Linked DNA regions of Homo sapiens. The protein of the gene in region 2 interacts with the protein of the main gene of each other region in a pairwise test. Each region holds a gene or a part of one and is shown on either strand. Other genes may lie near its edges.

Region 1 (7,251 bases), on a different chromosome or scaffold from region 2:
CACGCCTCTGCTCCAGACATTGGCTGGGCTCCACCGAGTCTCATGACTCTTCACTCACCCGGGTCTAAGGTACTGCTTAGGTGAGGTGCTTTTCCAGATGGCTGATCTTGCCCCCACAAGCATGAACTTTATAAATTAGTTTAACTCTCAAGTTCCTGAGATGCCTCACTATCTCTCCCGGGTATCTCCCTGGAAAAATTTTTCACTGTTGGCAAAGCACTCCTTAGCCTGACCACCCACAGACATTATGATAATGCATAGACTCACTAGACAATTAGTGACCTGGAAAAAAGCCATGACTTTTTAAATTTTATTTTATTTTTCTGAGACAGAGTTTCGCTCTTGTCGCCCAGGCTGGAGTGCAATGGCGCGATCTCGGCCCACTGCAACCTCCGCCTCCTAGGTTCAAGTGATTCTCCTGCCTCAGCCTGCAGAGTAGCTGGGATTACAGGCACCCACCACCATGCCTGGCTAATTTCTGTATTTTTAGTAGAGACGGGGTTTCACCATGTTGGCCAGGCTGGCCTCGAACTCCTGACCTCAAGTGATCTGCCTGCCTCGGCCTCCCAAAGTGCTGGGATTACAGGCCATGCCTGGCTATGACTTATTTTATTTTTATTTCAATGCTTACAATGTCATGACTGACTTCTTACCTGCCCTACCTGCTTATCTTTTTAAGTTCTGGATACCCTGGTTGCAGAAAACTCAGACTTAACTTACTTTCTAAGTGAACTTTCTTACTACAAAAGTAATACATATTTGAGAACTTGGAAAATGTAAGCAAGAAGAAAGCGAAAACATGAGTGGCCATCACCCAGAGATAAAATTGTGACATTTTGCCTCATGGTCTTGCAGTCTTTATACATAAATTATGCTTTACAAAATCTGGCTTATGCTACATTCTCTCTTTCTTTCCTTTTCTTTTCTTTTCCTTCCCCTCCCTCCCTCCCTCCCTTCCTTCCTTCCTCCTTCCCTCCCTTCCTTTCTTCCTCCCTCCCTCCCTTCCTTCCTTCTTCTTTCCTTCCTTCCTTCTCCCTCTCTTTTCTTCTTTTCTTTCTTTTTTTCTTTTCTATCTTTCACAGGGTCTTTGCTCTGTTGCCCAGGCTAGAGTGCAGTGGTGCAATCTGGGCTCACTGCAGCCTTGACTTTCTGGGCTCAAGTGATCCTCCCACTTCAGCCTTCTGAGTATCTGAGACAACAGGCATGTGCCACCACGCCCAGCTAATTTTTTATTTTTTTATTTTTTGTAGCAATGGGGTCGCTAGTCTTGAACTCCTGGGCTCAAGCAATCCTCCAACCTCGGCCTCCCAAAGTGCTGGGATTATAGGCATGTGCCCAGCCAACATGCACCGTTTTTTTGTTTTGTTTTGTTTTGGTTTTGGTTTGTTTGTTTGTGTTTTTTTTGAGATGGATTCTCTCTCTGTTGCCTGGGCTGGAATGCAGTGGTGCAATCTCGGCTCACTGCAACCTCCGCCTCCCAGGTTCAAGCGATTCTCCTGCCTCCTTAGCCTCCCAAGTAGCTGGGATTACAGGCACCTGCCACCACGCCCAGCTAAGTTTTTTTTTTTTTTGTATTTTTTAGTAGAGACGGGGTTTCAACATATTGGCCAGGCTGGTCTCAAACTCCTGACCTTGTGATCCGCCTGCCTCGGCCTCCCAAAGTGCTGGGATTACAGGCGTAAGCCACCGTATCCGGCCAACATGCACCATTTTTAAGCTGCTTTCCCCCTCCATTTACAGTATACTGTGACCATTTTTAAAAGTCAATGAAAATCTTTCTATATCATTTTAAATGATTATGTAGTTTTTCACCTAATTGATGGGGTTTTGGAGTGTTTTCAATCATTTGTGATTAAAATAAAACTGCAATGAATATCCTCACTCAACCAAAATATATCTTTTTGATGCTTCTGGGGAATTACATGATTAGGTCAAAGTAGATGAACTTCTTTATGTTTTCTTATGTTGCCAAGCCAGAAAGCGTGACTTCCAAACTCTCAAATACAAACCAGGTTCTTTGGACTAAATCAGTGTCTCGAATCCCCAGTAACCTCAGTTAACCAGTAGTGACACCGAAAAGCAGGGAATTCCAGAGCTGAGAGGAACTTTGAGGCCATCGGTGATCATATACCTCGTCTCCAGCTCAGAAAGAGGAGAATTACTTAGACATTTTCTTTAGAGATCTAAAACTTCCCAAAGTCCACAGTTTTATTTTCACACAATTCTAGGCTAACTTAAAATCAGCATTTTTGCATTATTCTTTCATTCAATATTTATATATTTATAATGAGGGGGTTAGATCAATAGGGGATTGGTGAAGTGATTTATGGTACAGCCATTCAATGAAATCTGATACAACCATTAAAAAACCGAAGAAGGTCTTCTTTTTTTTTTTTTGCTCTGTCGCCCAGGCTGGAGTGCAGTGGTACAATCTCAGCTCACTGCAACCTCTGCCTCCCAGGTTCAAGCGATTCTCCTGCCTCAGCCTCCTGAGTAGCTGGGACTACAGGTGTGCACCATGACGCCGGCTAATTTTTGTATTTTTAGTAGAGACGGGGTTTCACCATGTTGGCCAGGCTGGTCTTGAACTCCTGACCTCAAGTGATCCACCCGCCTTGGCCTCCCAAAGTGCTGGGATTACAGGTGTGAGTCACAGCGCTGGGCCAAAAACCGAAGAAGGTCTTTATGTACTAATACAGAATGATATCTCAAATACATCATCAAATGAAAAAAGAAAAATGCAGAACAGTGTACATAATATGCACATTTGTGTAAAAAGGAGGTAAAGGAATACATAGATGTTTTGCCATGGACATGCTGTTTGTGTATGTATAAAACATCTTTGGAAAGATACACAACAAACTGATAGTATAATACTTTGATTTCCAGGGAAACTAGGTGGCTGCGAAGAGACAGTTTTCACTGTGAAATCAAACCATTCACATGCTCAACCATGTAAATATATTACCTATTTAAAAATCAAATGTGGGCACGGTGGCTCAAGTGTAATCTTAGCACTTTTGGCAAGTGGATTGCTGGAGCCCAGGAGTTTGAGACCAGCCTAGGCAACCTGGAGAAACCCCATCTCTACAAGAAATACAAAAATTAGCCAGCCACGGTGGCATGCACCTGTAGTCCTAGGTACTCAGGAGGCGGAGGTGGGAAGACTGCTTGACCCCAGGAGGTTGAGGCTGCAGTGAGCTGTGATCGTGCCACCGCACCCCAGCCTGGATGATAGAGTGAGACTCTGTCTCAAAATAAATCAATACATAAAAATTAATGTAAAAAAACACAAAATGCGGGGACTAGGGCATTTGATTACATCACCAAGCAGATACATTTATTTACTTGTTTATTTCTCAAGTATGGCTGAAAATGTCAGTAAAGAAATAAGGGGCCAGGCGCGGTGGCTCATGCCTGTAATCTCAGCACTTTGGGAGGTCGAGGCAGGTGGATCACCTGAGGTCAGGAGTTTGAGACCAGCCTGGCCAACAAGGCGAAATCCTGTCTCTACTAAGAATGTAAAAATTAGCCGGGCATGGTAGCGCGCACCTGTAGTCCCAGTTACTCGGGAGGCCGTGGCAGGAGAATTGCTGGAACCAGGGAGGTGGGGGTTACAGTGAGCCAGTATCGCCCCACTGCACTCTAGCCTGGGCGACAGAGCAAAACTACGTCTTAAAAAAAAAAAAAAAAAAGAAAGAAAAAAAAAAAGAAAGAAAGAGAGAGAGAAAGAAAAGAGGACCATAGGTACAAAAAGAATTTGAGCGGGAACAAAAGATGGGCCACGTGAACAGACCGGTTATAACAATAATAGTTCTGGTTAACATTTAGCGAGTTACTGTCTGCCAGGCCCTGTGTTATTACGCGATCTCGACACGTATTACCTCATTTAATCTACAGATCAAGTAGGTAGGTTATTATGGCCATTTTCAGGTGAGGAAACTGAGGCTGGCAGAAGTTAATTAATTTGCTCAAGTCTCCATCGGTAGTTAAACGGAGTTTGGATTCTCAGTGAGGGCTGAACTCTGACCTAGAAGTGTGCCTTGCTTGAGAACCCTGGCTCTTCAGGCAGACGCTCAACCGTCTCCCGACTATTTTTCTGCTGTATTAGTGGCCGCTTTTGTCAGTATTTTGCAAGAGCTATCTGTATTTTGGTTACAGGGACTCAGCATAGGGAAGGATCCATCTCGGCAGAAGCCAGGAGTCGAGGCAGGTCAGCGCACAGAGGACAGTGGAATCCGAGGGGATGGCAGGAGATCAATCGGACCCAGAACAGAGGCCTGCAAGGATGAGCGCACTTGATCCCCTCAGAGAAAAAGCCAGAGTGACTCACAGGAGAAAGACAAAGCAACCAAAGCTTCCAGGGTGTACAGGAGGTCCAAAGTCACCAGAAGGAAGAAGAAAACCTGAAACAGCGAGAGCTGGCCAAACGCTGCTAAGACCTATGCAAATAAGACCCACCCACGCTACCTGGAAATCGGGCCTGGGAAGTCAGAAAACAAAGCACATGCGTGCAGGGCTGCACGAACGGAGGCGGAGGAGGCGGCTCCGAGGGAGCAGGTAAGGAGACAGAGAGGGTCGCGGAGGGACGGGTCACAGGGCTCCAGAGTCCAGAGAGGCAGCAGCCGTGCAGCGCGCGACAGGTGAACTCTGGCCTGGGAGGGCAGGCTACTGGGTTCATCTTTCAAACTCAGCCACTCTTTAGCTGGGAAGACTTCGGCAAGTTGCCTCACCCTTCTGAGCCTTGGCTTCCCCATCTAGAAAATGGGTCTAAAAATAATCATGCTAACTCTGTATTGAGCGCCTTCCGTATTCTACTGGGCACCGTATAGACTATTCCTTCCCCAGAGCAACCTTGTAGGAGTGGGATGATTAGCCTTTTTTACAGAGGAAAATGAAGTTCAGAGAGGTTAAGCCATTTGTCCAAGACAAATTGTTCCAAATCTGGTTCCAAAGCCGGCACCTTTCTACTCCCCATTCAGCCTCTCTCACAGGGTGGTTTTAGAGTATCAAATGGCTTTCTGCAAACAACAACAAAAAATCCCAAAAGGCTAGTAACCTATCTAGATGGATCACCACACTTAGATCTTAGCAAGGGCCAGGGCCCTTTGTAAACTGTGAAGTGCTATGGAAATGCCAGTTCTTGGTTGAAAACAATGGAGTGATGCTGGGGACAATTGATATTTGGCGATGACTTGTTCATAGACCAAGGAGATGACTTTGGGGCGGTGTTTAGGATTTACTGTAGCTGAGATGTCCTGGCTTGGGGTGGAGGTGATACATGGCCAGAATCTCTCCCCAGCTGATCCTGAAACAGCAGTGGATCCCTGGGAGAGCAGCACAGATAAAGATCCAGGCAATAATGATGCTTCCTCCTCTTGGACAGCCTTTTACAGTTCTGGCCATGGAACTTCAGAGAAGGTAGGTCTGATTTGGGGGGAAACAGGAGATCTTGACGTGTAGTAATACAAGCTTACTGGATGGAGTAAAGTTAGAATTTTCAGGTAAGAGAATTAAAAAAAAAAAAAAAACTTATAATCTTGCCCCCAGAGATAACCACTGCTAATATCTGGTTGTTTATCTCTCCAGACATTTTTTCCATTGCACACACACTTTTGGAAATTGGATTATATGGTAATATGGTTTTGTTGCTGGTTCTTTTTCGCTTAATGACATTATATCCTAGGTATATATCCATATTAATAGTTTTACCACATCATATTAAAGGCTGCATAATATCTCTTCCTATGGATGGAGCAGAATCTACTTAATCAATGTCCTATTACTGGATGATGACGTAGTTCTCCATACGTCACCGTTAAACCAGCGCCTGGATGGGCATCTCTTTACTCACATCTTTGCAGAAGTCCTTGATGGTTTCCGTGGAATCGATTCCCAGTGGGGGAAATGATGAGTCAAGGTTACATACAGTTTACGGCCTCTGGTAAGTATTAAAGATCTGCTTCTAACACACTCTGGGATTCAGGGGCTTCTCAAAGCTTGATGCAGAGGACTTTGTCACGGCTTTGAAATCAACCTTGACCCTTCCTTTCTCTCAAATCCATTTGCATTAATAATTTCAACTGCCTCATATATCCATAACAATGTTTTGATCAACAGTGAATTACATATGTGATGGTGGCCACCTAAGATTATAATACCATATATTTACCTTGCCTTTTCTAAGTTTATGTTGAAAGACACACGCAATTATCATTGTGTTACAATTGCCTACAGTGTTCAGAACATAATAAGCTGTATGGGTTTGTAGCCTAGGAGCAACAGGCTAGACCGTATAGCCTAGGCATGTAGCAGGCTCTACCATCTAGGTTTGTGTAAATACTCTCTGTGCTGTTCATACAACGATGTGTTTCTGAGAACATAGTCCCATTTTTAGGTCATGCATTGCTTTGTGGTCTTTACTGGGTGCTGGGCTCTAACTAAAAGCTTTACTAGTTTTGGCTTCCTTTGCACAAGGAGAAATAGAGGCACAGAGAGGTCAAGCAATTCAACTGGAATCACAGCCCTAAATAGCCATGGATCTGGCATCATGAACCTTGACAGAAACTACAACTGGATCCCTAGAACTCCACTGCTTCTTGGGAAGTGGCTTTGATTCTGTCCCCAAAGATATCACTTATCCCATCCCCTTTTATCTCCTCTGCCACTGCCTAACCTGCACCACCATCACACGCCTGAGCCACACTGCTGCAGCCCGAACGGGTGTTCCCTTCCCGATCTTATCCCTCTCAGCCTGTCCTCTGCTCTGCAGCTAGAATGGTGTTTTAAAAATGGAAATAGGATCAGGTACCTTACCCTACCGCTCACCCCTGGAATAAAATCCAGATGAGCTCCTGAGTTCACAGGTCCCGAGTACTATACCCTCCCACCTTGCCTACTCCGGTCACCACACCTTGATCACCCTGGGCTCCTTTCACTTTCTCAAATTGGAAGAGCTTTTCTCACCTCGGGGCCACACATGCTGTTCCCTGGGCCTGCAACGCTCTTCCTCCACTGTGCGTGGCTGGATTCCTATATACTTTGGTCTCAGCTCTTCTGTCATCTCTTTGCAGAAACCTTCTCTGGTGGTCTCATTGGGAGCAGCCACCAAGCACCCGAAGCCCATTTTCCTTTTTGCCCTTTATTAACAACCATTAAAATTGTGTATTTATTTATTGCCCATTATTCATTAAATGTCTTTTTGCCTCACTACACTCTAAATGTCATGAGGTCAAAGACAATGTCTATTTT
Region 2 (7,890 bases):
CAGGCGCTCGCCACCATGCCGGTTTACTTTTTTGTATTTTTAGTAGAGACGGGGTTTCACCGTGTTAGCCAGGATGGTCTCGATCTGACCTCATGATCTGCCCGCCTCGGCCTCCCAACGTGCTGGGATTACAGGCGTGAGCCACAGCGCCTGGCTGGTTATTTATTTATTTATTTTGAGATAGGATCTCAGTCACTGGGGCTGGAGTACAGTGGTGTAGTCACAGTTCACAGCAGCCTTGACCTCCTGGGCTCAGGTGAGCCTCCCACCTCAGCCTTCCAAGTAGCTGGGACTACAGGTGTATGCCACCATGCCTGGCTAATTTTTGTGTGTTTTGTAGAGATGGGGTTTCTCCATGTTGCCCAGGACTGGTCTTGAACTTCTAGGATCAAGCGATCTGCCTGCTTTGGCCTCCCAAAGTGCTGGGATTACAGGTGCGAGCCACTTCGCCTGGCCTGGAGTGGAGGTTTGTGTCAATCCTAGACCCGGAGAGGCAGAGACCCCAGCTGACAGATGCAAGTATTAGGGATGTGCTGAAGCAGAGGGTAAGGCTGGGAGGAGCTTAGCATGTCTTTTTTTTTTTTTTTTTTTTTTTTTTTTGAGACAGAGTCTCACTCTGTCGCCCAGGCTGGAGTGAAGTGGCGCGATCTTGGCTCACTGCAACCTCTGCCTCCCGGGTTCAATAGATTCTCCTTCCTCAGCCTCCCAAGTAGCTGGGATTACCGGCGTATGCTACCACGCCCGGCTAATTTGTTTGTTTGTTTTTTGAGATGGAGTCTCGCTCTGTCACCCAGGCTGGAGTGCAGTGGCGCGATCTCCGCTCACTGCAAGCTCCACCTCCTGGGTTCACACCATTCTCCTGCCTCAGCCTCTCCAGTAGCTGGGACTACAGGTGCCCGCCACCACGCCCGGCTAATTTTTTGTATTTTTAGTAGAGACAGGGTTTCACCATGTTAGCCAGGATGGTCTTGATCTCCTGACCTTGTGATCCGCCCGCCTCAGCCTCCCAAAGTGCTGGGATTACAGGCGTAAACCACTGTGCTCCACTGGCATGTCTTTGTTCTATGACTGTTCTTTGGCCAGCCATGGATCTCTTTACTCTCCCAATCTCCCACTCTCTCTTGCCTACATGCCCTCCTAATCCAGCTTTGAGCCCGTGGCCTGACATTTAATAGCACTCTTGGCCAGGCGTGGTGGCTCACGCCTGTAATCCCAGCTCTTTGGGAGGCCGAGGCAGGCGGACCATTTGAGATCAGGAGTTCGAGACCAGCTTGACCTACATAATGAAACCCCGTCTCTACTAAAGTACAAAAATTAGCCAGGCATGGTGGCAGGTACCTGTAATCCCAGCTACTCGGGAGGCTGAGGCAGGAGAATCGCTTGATCCCAGGAGGTGGAGGTTGCAGTGAGCTGAGATCATGCCACTGCACTCCAGCCTGGGCAACAGAGCAAGACTCTCTCTCAAAAAAAATTTAATTTAATTTAATTTAAAAATAGCACTCTTGCCAGTAACCTAAACTTCGTTACTCACCTTCCCTGCAAACCCCTGAACACATGCAATAGTTGTTTCTCTTCCAGCCTTCATCAGAGCAGCCAAGGGAGGCAGGAGGAGGAGGAGCGATGAGAATACTGGCAAATACTTCTACAGCATGTACTAGGTGCCAAGCACAAGTGCTTTACAGAGGGTAACTCGTTTAATCCTCCCAACACCATGAGGTAAGTACTGTTATTATCATTCCCATTTGTGGATAAAGAAAATGGGGTGGCCAGGCGCGGTGGCTTATGCCTGTAATCCCAGCACTTTGGGAGGCCGAGACAGGTGGATCACGGTCAGGAGATCGAGACCATCCTAGCTAACATGGTGAAGCACCGTCTCTACCAAAAATATGAAAAAATTAGCCGGGCGTGGTAGCAGGCGCCAGTCATCCCAGCTACTCAGGAGGCTGAGGCAGGAGAATGGCGTGAACCCGGGAGGCGGAGCTTGCAGTGAGCTGAGATCGTGCCACTGCACTCCAGCCTGGGCGACAGAGCGAGACTATGTCTCAAAAAAAAAAAAAGGAAGAAAAAAGAAAGAAAGAGAGAAAGAAAGAAAGAAAGAAAATGGGGTGAACAGAGGTTAAGTCACTCAGAAAACCCAAAGCACACAGCTAATTAAGGTGAGCAGCCATGAATGAACCTGCACCATCTGCCCAGAGTCCCGGTCCACCAGGGGAGGATGAGGCCAGGGAGGACTTGGCTTCTTCCGCCTTGGGTCCAAGCACTACTTTCAGCAACCAGGGGCACAGTCCAAAAGAAGCCCAGACTCTCACTGCTCTTGGGGCTGACATTATCACTCTGGAGGTTAATAATAATAGCAATAATAAAACCAGCTTCCATTTTCAGGCTTTAAGATGTGTGTCCTAAGCACTTCACATGTATTTATTTATTCCTTTAGTCCTCCCAACAACACTATGAGGTAGAAGCTACAGTTAGTTATCTCCCTTTTCTTGAGGGACATGAAGGGACGTAGTGACGAGCCTAAATTCTACAACAGAGTGGTGGATCAGATGGGAAGTGTGGCAGCTGGATGCCAGAGCCCGGCTCTTAACCCAGACTCTTTGCCTACCTTTGCTCCGCCTGGAGTTGCTGGCCTGCTCCTTCTGCTTTAGGGGAGGAGCCTCTTCTGCCTGGCAGTTCCCCACCCAGGCCTGATCCACAGCTCCAGAGCCCTGCTGTGGCAGCCCTCTGTCCCTTCTCCTCCGAGGCATGTAGGTGGCCAGCGGAGCCCTTAAGCAGGGTGAGGACGGGAACTCCATCTGGAACTCCCCAGGCCCAGCTGCAGCCCCAGCAGCCTCTACTCTCAGAGGCTTGGGTCCCCCACTAGTGCCCTGTAGACAGGGCCTGAGCTGGTCCTCCCCAGGCCTTGCCCGCCTCTCCTGATGCAGAGCTGGCTCCCTGCTCCTGGAGGGTGGGGCCAAATCCGGGATAGATGGGGCTCCAGGCCAACAGCAGCTGGGGCTCAGTGCCCAGGACTGCGGCAGGAAGCACCAAGGCTTCCCTAGCCCCTCCTCACACCCACCAAGCCTCCCGGCCCTATCCCGGGTGGGACCCTACCCCTCCCAATTCCCAGGAGTTAGGGGAGGCCAAGCTGTCATTTATTCGTCCTGTCCCATCTCTCCCTTCCTCCCGCTTCCCACTCCCCTGGCAACCAAACCAGACCCATCAAGGAGAAGGAACTGGCAGCTGTGCAGGGAGAGACTAATGGCCCGGAAGGAAGGAGGGGCCTGGAAAGGAGACGAAGGCGGTAGGGACGTGAGCAGGGCGTTGGCCCTGGCCCATCTCACAGGACGCACAAAGGGGGGAGGGGGCTGCTGCCCTGCAATACTGAGGAGCTGGCCAGCCAGGGAGCCGCCCTCCTTACCCCCAGCCAGATATCCAGGCAGGAACCTGAAACCTGCTTCCCCAGATGCACTCTCTTGTCCTCAGGTCCCATCTGAGGCAGACCTGTCTCACAGGACAGCGCTGGAGTCCCCAGCAGCAGCAGCAGCCCCAGCCCTATGGTTCCTGGCAAACCCAGCAGACCTCAGCAACCCGGCTCCTGCAGACCATCCGAGCTGCCTCTGTCCACTCCTGGGCAGGTTGTGCTTGCATTCTGGAAGCTGTTTGACATACAAAGGCCAGATATCAGCCTTCTCGCTAACTCTGGAGTAGGGGAGGGTGTGGTGGGATGTGTGATTGTGTGTGTATGTGTGTGTATGTAGTGTGTGTGCGCATAGATATACAAAGCTGTGTGTATGCATCTGTTTGCGTGCGCAGGTTTGTGGACCTGTTCTGGGGCCTTCTCTCTTTCAGACTGCTGGGGATGGGCACTTTCTCTTTCCCCATCTCTTCCCCATCCAGCCCCACCCATCCCTGGTACCTGCAACTCATCAATACTGGAAACCAGCTCCTGCCAGTCCATCCATCTCTCAGCCTTGGCAGCCGCTGTTGCCCCTCAGCCCCCTCCCCTTCCTACCTCAGGAATCACTCTGGTTCCTGTAAAGCCCATGACTGAGCAGCAATTGGTGTGGGGTTGGGGGGAGGGAGAATCCAGTAAACCAAGACAGAATACAAAAGGCCCACTTAGCCCAGCCCGTGGCATGGGGCAGACCCTCCCGAGTGGGATCCAGAGCTGGGTCCAGCCACCCTCAGCCCCCTATGATGTACCCACCTCATTGGGGCTTGTTGCGGGGTAGGTCTAGGTTTGGGGGCTGTGTCTTTAAGGCTGAAACATCAGCAGACAACCTCTGCTGGGCCGTCTTCAGGGGAGGGGGAGGGGGGCTGGTCAGCCCATTAGCAGCAGAGCTGGCGCCAGGCACCAGCCCTTCACAGGGCCCTGGGGATTAGGGAGAGTAGCTCTTCCCCAGCCCGATCTGCCTCTGCGCCCCTGTCTCCTATTCCTCTCTGGGTGTGGTGAAGGAGGGGTAGCTGACAGCAGGTGAAAATAGAGCCTGGCCTTCAGGGGGCAAGTCAAGGCACTAGCTATGGGGCCTAAGCCAGGTCAACTCTCCCTCCAGCTGGCCTCCTCCCTACTCCTGTGCCAGAAGCCTGCCCTTTAACTTCAGGTCCTTCTACCTCGCAATTTTCAGGGACTCTAGTTCAAGTCAGGCCTTCCTACCCTAGGTTCTAGCTTTGGGTGCTTGTTGGGAGGAAGTGACCCCCACCCCAGCGGCAACAGGGGGCAATCAAGTGGGTAGAGGCCTGCAACCAGGGAAGGGAGGGGAAGGCGCTCCTGCTGTTCCGCAGGGGTGGGGCATCCCCCTCCCCATACAACCCCCCTCCAGCGGGCCATCAGGCCAGTGGGAGGAGCTGCCCGTGCCCCCCCTGAGACCGCAGGGCTATAAAGCCGCCTCGCAGCGGTCTGCGGCTCCTTCCCAGCCCCCGGCCTAGCTCTGCGAACGGTGACTGCCCATCCTTGGCCGCAATGAGCCACCACCCGTCGGGCCTCCGGGCCGGCTTCAGCTCCACCTCATACCGCCGTACCTTCGGTCCACCGCCCTCACTATCCCCCGGGGCCTTCTCCTACTCGTCCAGCTCCCGCTTCTCCAGCAGCCGCCTGCTGGGCTCCGCGTCCCCGAGCTCCTCGGTGCGCCTGGGCAGCTTCCGTAGCCCCCGAGCGGGAGCGGGCGCCCTCCTGCGCCTGCCCTCGGAGCGCCTCGACTTCTCCATGGCCGAGGCCCTCAACCAGGAGTTCCTGGCCACGCGCAGCAACGAGAAGCAGGAGCTGCAGGAGCTCAACGACCGCTTCGCCAACTTCATCGAGAAGGTACGCTTTCTGGAGCAGCAGAACGCGGCCCTGCGCGGGGAGCTGAGCCAAGCCCGGGGCCAGGAGCCGGCGCGCGCCGACCAGCTGTGCCAGCAGGAGCTGCGCGAGCTGCGGCGAGAGCTGGAGCTGTTGGGCCGCGAGCGTGACCGGGTGCAGGTGGAGCGCGACGGGCTGGCGGAGGACCTGGCGGCGCTCAAGCAGAGGTCAGGGGGCAGGGCTGGGCCGCTGCCGTCGAGGCGAGGTCGAAGCGGCCGTCGAGGCGGCTGCTCTTGCCTCCCCTCGCTTCCCCTCTCCATCAGCAGCCCAAGGGTGTGGCTCCCCTTACCAACCCAGGTGTGTGCGGGCAGCATCCCTGCCCACGGGCTCCAAGTGCCCCCCGCTACCCCTTTGCTCTGAGTGTTTGGGGAGGTGGGAGAAGTGGGTATCTGTGCCTCCCCTGAGTAATGAGGAAACCCCCTTTTCAGCTCCCAGTCCGTTAGAGACAATGCGGGGCAATTCCATTAGACAGCCTCAGCCCTCCATTTAGAGTCCTGGGCAGCAGAACAGCCTCTAACCGGATCCTGGGGGGCGTGCGGTCTGGGGTGCGAGCTGGGCGGCGACCCCGCAGTTCAGCCTCTGCACGCTCTTCCCGTCAGGTTGGAGGAGGAGACGCGCAAGCGGGAGGACGCGGAGCACAACCTCGTGCTCTTCCGCAAGGTGAGTCCGAGCCCCTCTCCGAGTTCAGCCTCCCCACCGCTACCCCCGATCTCAGTATCCAGAGGTGGCATCGGTGGGCGCGGGGAGAAGGGGGTAACCCAGATGCCTCCTGAGGCAGACAGGGAAGGCCTGGTCCTTCCTTGGTCTGCGCAGCCCCTAACTTATCTTGAACCTCCACTGCCACCCCTCGAAGGACGTGGACGATGCCACTCTGTCCCGCCTGGAACTAGAGCGCAAGATTGAGTCTCTGATGGATGAGATTGAGTTCCTCAAGAAGCTGCACGAGGAGGTAAGTGGGCCCGGTATCAGGGGCGGTTTCTGAGGTTGTGGGGTGGTCTCGCTGGAGCTGGCGGGTGGAGCGGAGGCATCGCCCTGGGGATCAGGACGATGCTGGGTAGACGCAGCCCCTCCACCCTAGTCTACAGGTGGTTAGACTCCCACCCTTGCGCCACCTGGCGGCGGGCAGCGGGGCTGTACCTCCGAAACCTGGCCTCTGGTCTCGCGCCCGCGGGGGCGCAGGGCTGTACGCCCTGCCCTCCCTGGCGCCCACTTCTGTTCGTTCAAGCGTTTCTTCTCTTTTCTGTGCACGAACTGCGTGGCCCGCGTGGAATTTGCGCCGCTGTCCATCCTCTGCCTGCTCCCGGCCGTAGGAGCTGCGAGACCTGCAGGTGAGTGTGGAGAGCCAGCAGGTGCAGCAGGTGGAGGTGGAAGCCACGGTGAAGCCCGAGCTGACGGCAGCGCTGAGGGACATCCGCGCGCAGTACGAGAGCATCGCCGCGAAGAACCTGCAGGAGGCGGAGGAGTGGTACAAGTCCAAGGTGCAAGAGCCGGGAGGGCCTGCGAGGCGGGACGCTGGGGTGGTGTCGCGCGTCCCAGCCGACTAAAGCCTGGGTTACCCCCACTTCTCAGTACGCGGACCTGTCCGACGCTGCCAACCGGAACCACGAGGCCCTGCGCCAGGCCAAGCAGGAGATGAACGAGTCCCGACGCCAGATCCAGAGTCTAACGTGCGAGGTGGACGGGCTGCGCGGCACGGTGAGTACGAAGCTGCGCGCTCGGGCCCGGGGAGCGGACGATGAAATGTTCTGCAACTGGCCCCTTCCACTCTCCTACCCCAGAACGAGGCGCTGCTCAGGCAGTTGAGAGAGCTGGAGGAGCAGTTCGCCCTGGAGGCGGGGGGCTACCAGGCGGGCGCTGCGCGGCTCGAGGAGGAGCTGCGACAGCTAAAAGAGGAGATGGCGCGGCACCTGAGGGAGTACCAGGAGCTCCTCAACGTCAAGATGGCCCTGGACATCGAGATCGCCACCTACCGCAAGCTGCTGGAGGGCGAGGAGAGCCGGTGAGGGTGGAGCTGCTGGGGCGGGGCAGGGCGGGGTCGGGACTGGGCCGGGCAGGGCGGGGCCTGGGCAGGGGCGCTGACAACTTGCTTCGCCTCTAGGATCTCCGTGCCCGTCCATTCTTTTGCCTCCTTAAATATAAAGACGACTGGTGAGTCTGGCTTACAGCCTGTACCTCTCCTTGTCCACTTCTGCCCTCCTCGGGCTCTTGCTCTGGCTCACCTCAGGGATCTCTTCTCCCCACGGAACTTCTGGGTCCTGGCCTGTACCCACCCCTACTCCTCAAACCCGCCCCTCCCCTGCCCTCAGGGATAGCAGTGGGAGCCTAAGAGGAGAGATTCCCACGCCTTCCCCCTTGAACCCTTTATCCTGCTTTCTTCAGTGCCTGAGGTGGAGCCTCCCCAGGACAGCCACAGCCGGAAGACGGTTCTGATCAAGACCATTGAGACCCGGAATGGGGAGGTGAGGCAGGTCCCCTAATGCCAGGACCCCACCATTTCCCATATTATTTCTGAGCCCCAGCCTGGCTGTCGCTAATCTTACTTAGGGTGGGTAATTCTTGGGGAGAGACAG

Evidence for each region. The genes of interacting proteins can lie anywhere in the genome.
Region 1: the proteins of PRPH (region 2) and RNF183 interact in binary tests that used the Homo sapiens proteins (3 or more experiments, as listed by UniProt).

Annotation. Positions count from the first base shown.
Region 1 is NC_000009.12:113,300,365-113,307,615, reverse strand, and holds the start of RNF183 (E3 ubiquitin-protein ligase RNF183), read left to right. Parts: upstream 1-4,239; 5' UTR 4,240-4,560; intron 4,561-4,566; exon of another isoform or gene 4,567-5,302; 5' UTR 5,303-5,421; exon of another isoform or gene 5,422-5,864; 5' UTR 5,865-5,944; exon of another isoform or gene 5,945-7,251. UniProt on the Homo sapiens protein: Acts as an E3 ubiquitin ligase catalyzing the covalent attachment of ubiquitin moieties onto substrate proteins. Triggers apoptosis in response to prolonged ER stress by mediating the polyubiquitination and subsequent proteasomal degradation of BCL2L1.
Region 2 is NC_000012.12:49,290,259-49,298,148, forward strand, and holds the start of PRPH (peripherin), read left to right. Parts: upstream 1-4,888; 5' UTR 4,889-4,942; coding exon 4,943-5,487; exon of another isoform or gene 5,488-5,919; coding exon 5,920-5,980; exon of another isoform or gene 5,981-6,173; coding exon 6,174-6,269; exon of another isoform or gene 6,270-6,326; intron 6,327-6,457; exon of another isoform or gene 6,458-6,630; coding exon 6,631-6,798; exon of another isoform or gene 6,799-6,889; coding exon 6,890-7,015; exon of another isoform or gene 7,016-7,098; coding exon 7,099-7,319; exon of another isoform or gene 7,320-7,418; coding exon 7,419-7,468; intron 7,469-7,699; coding exon 7,700-7,779; intron 7,780-7,890. UniProt on the Homo sapiens protein: Class-III neuronal intermediate filament protein.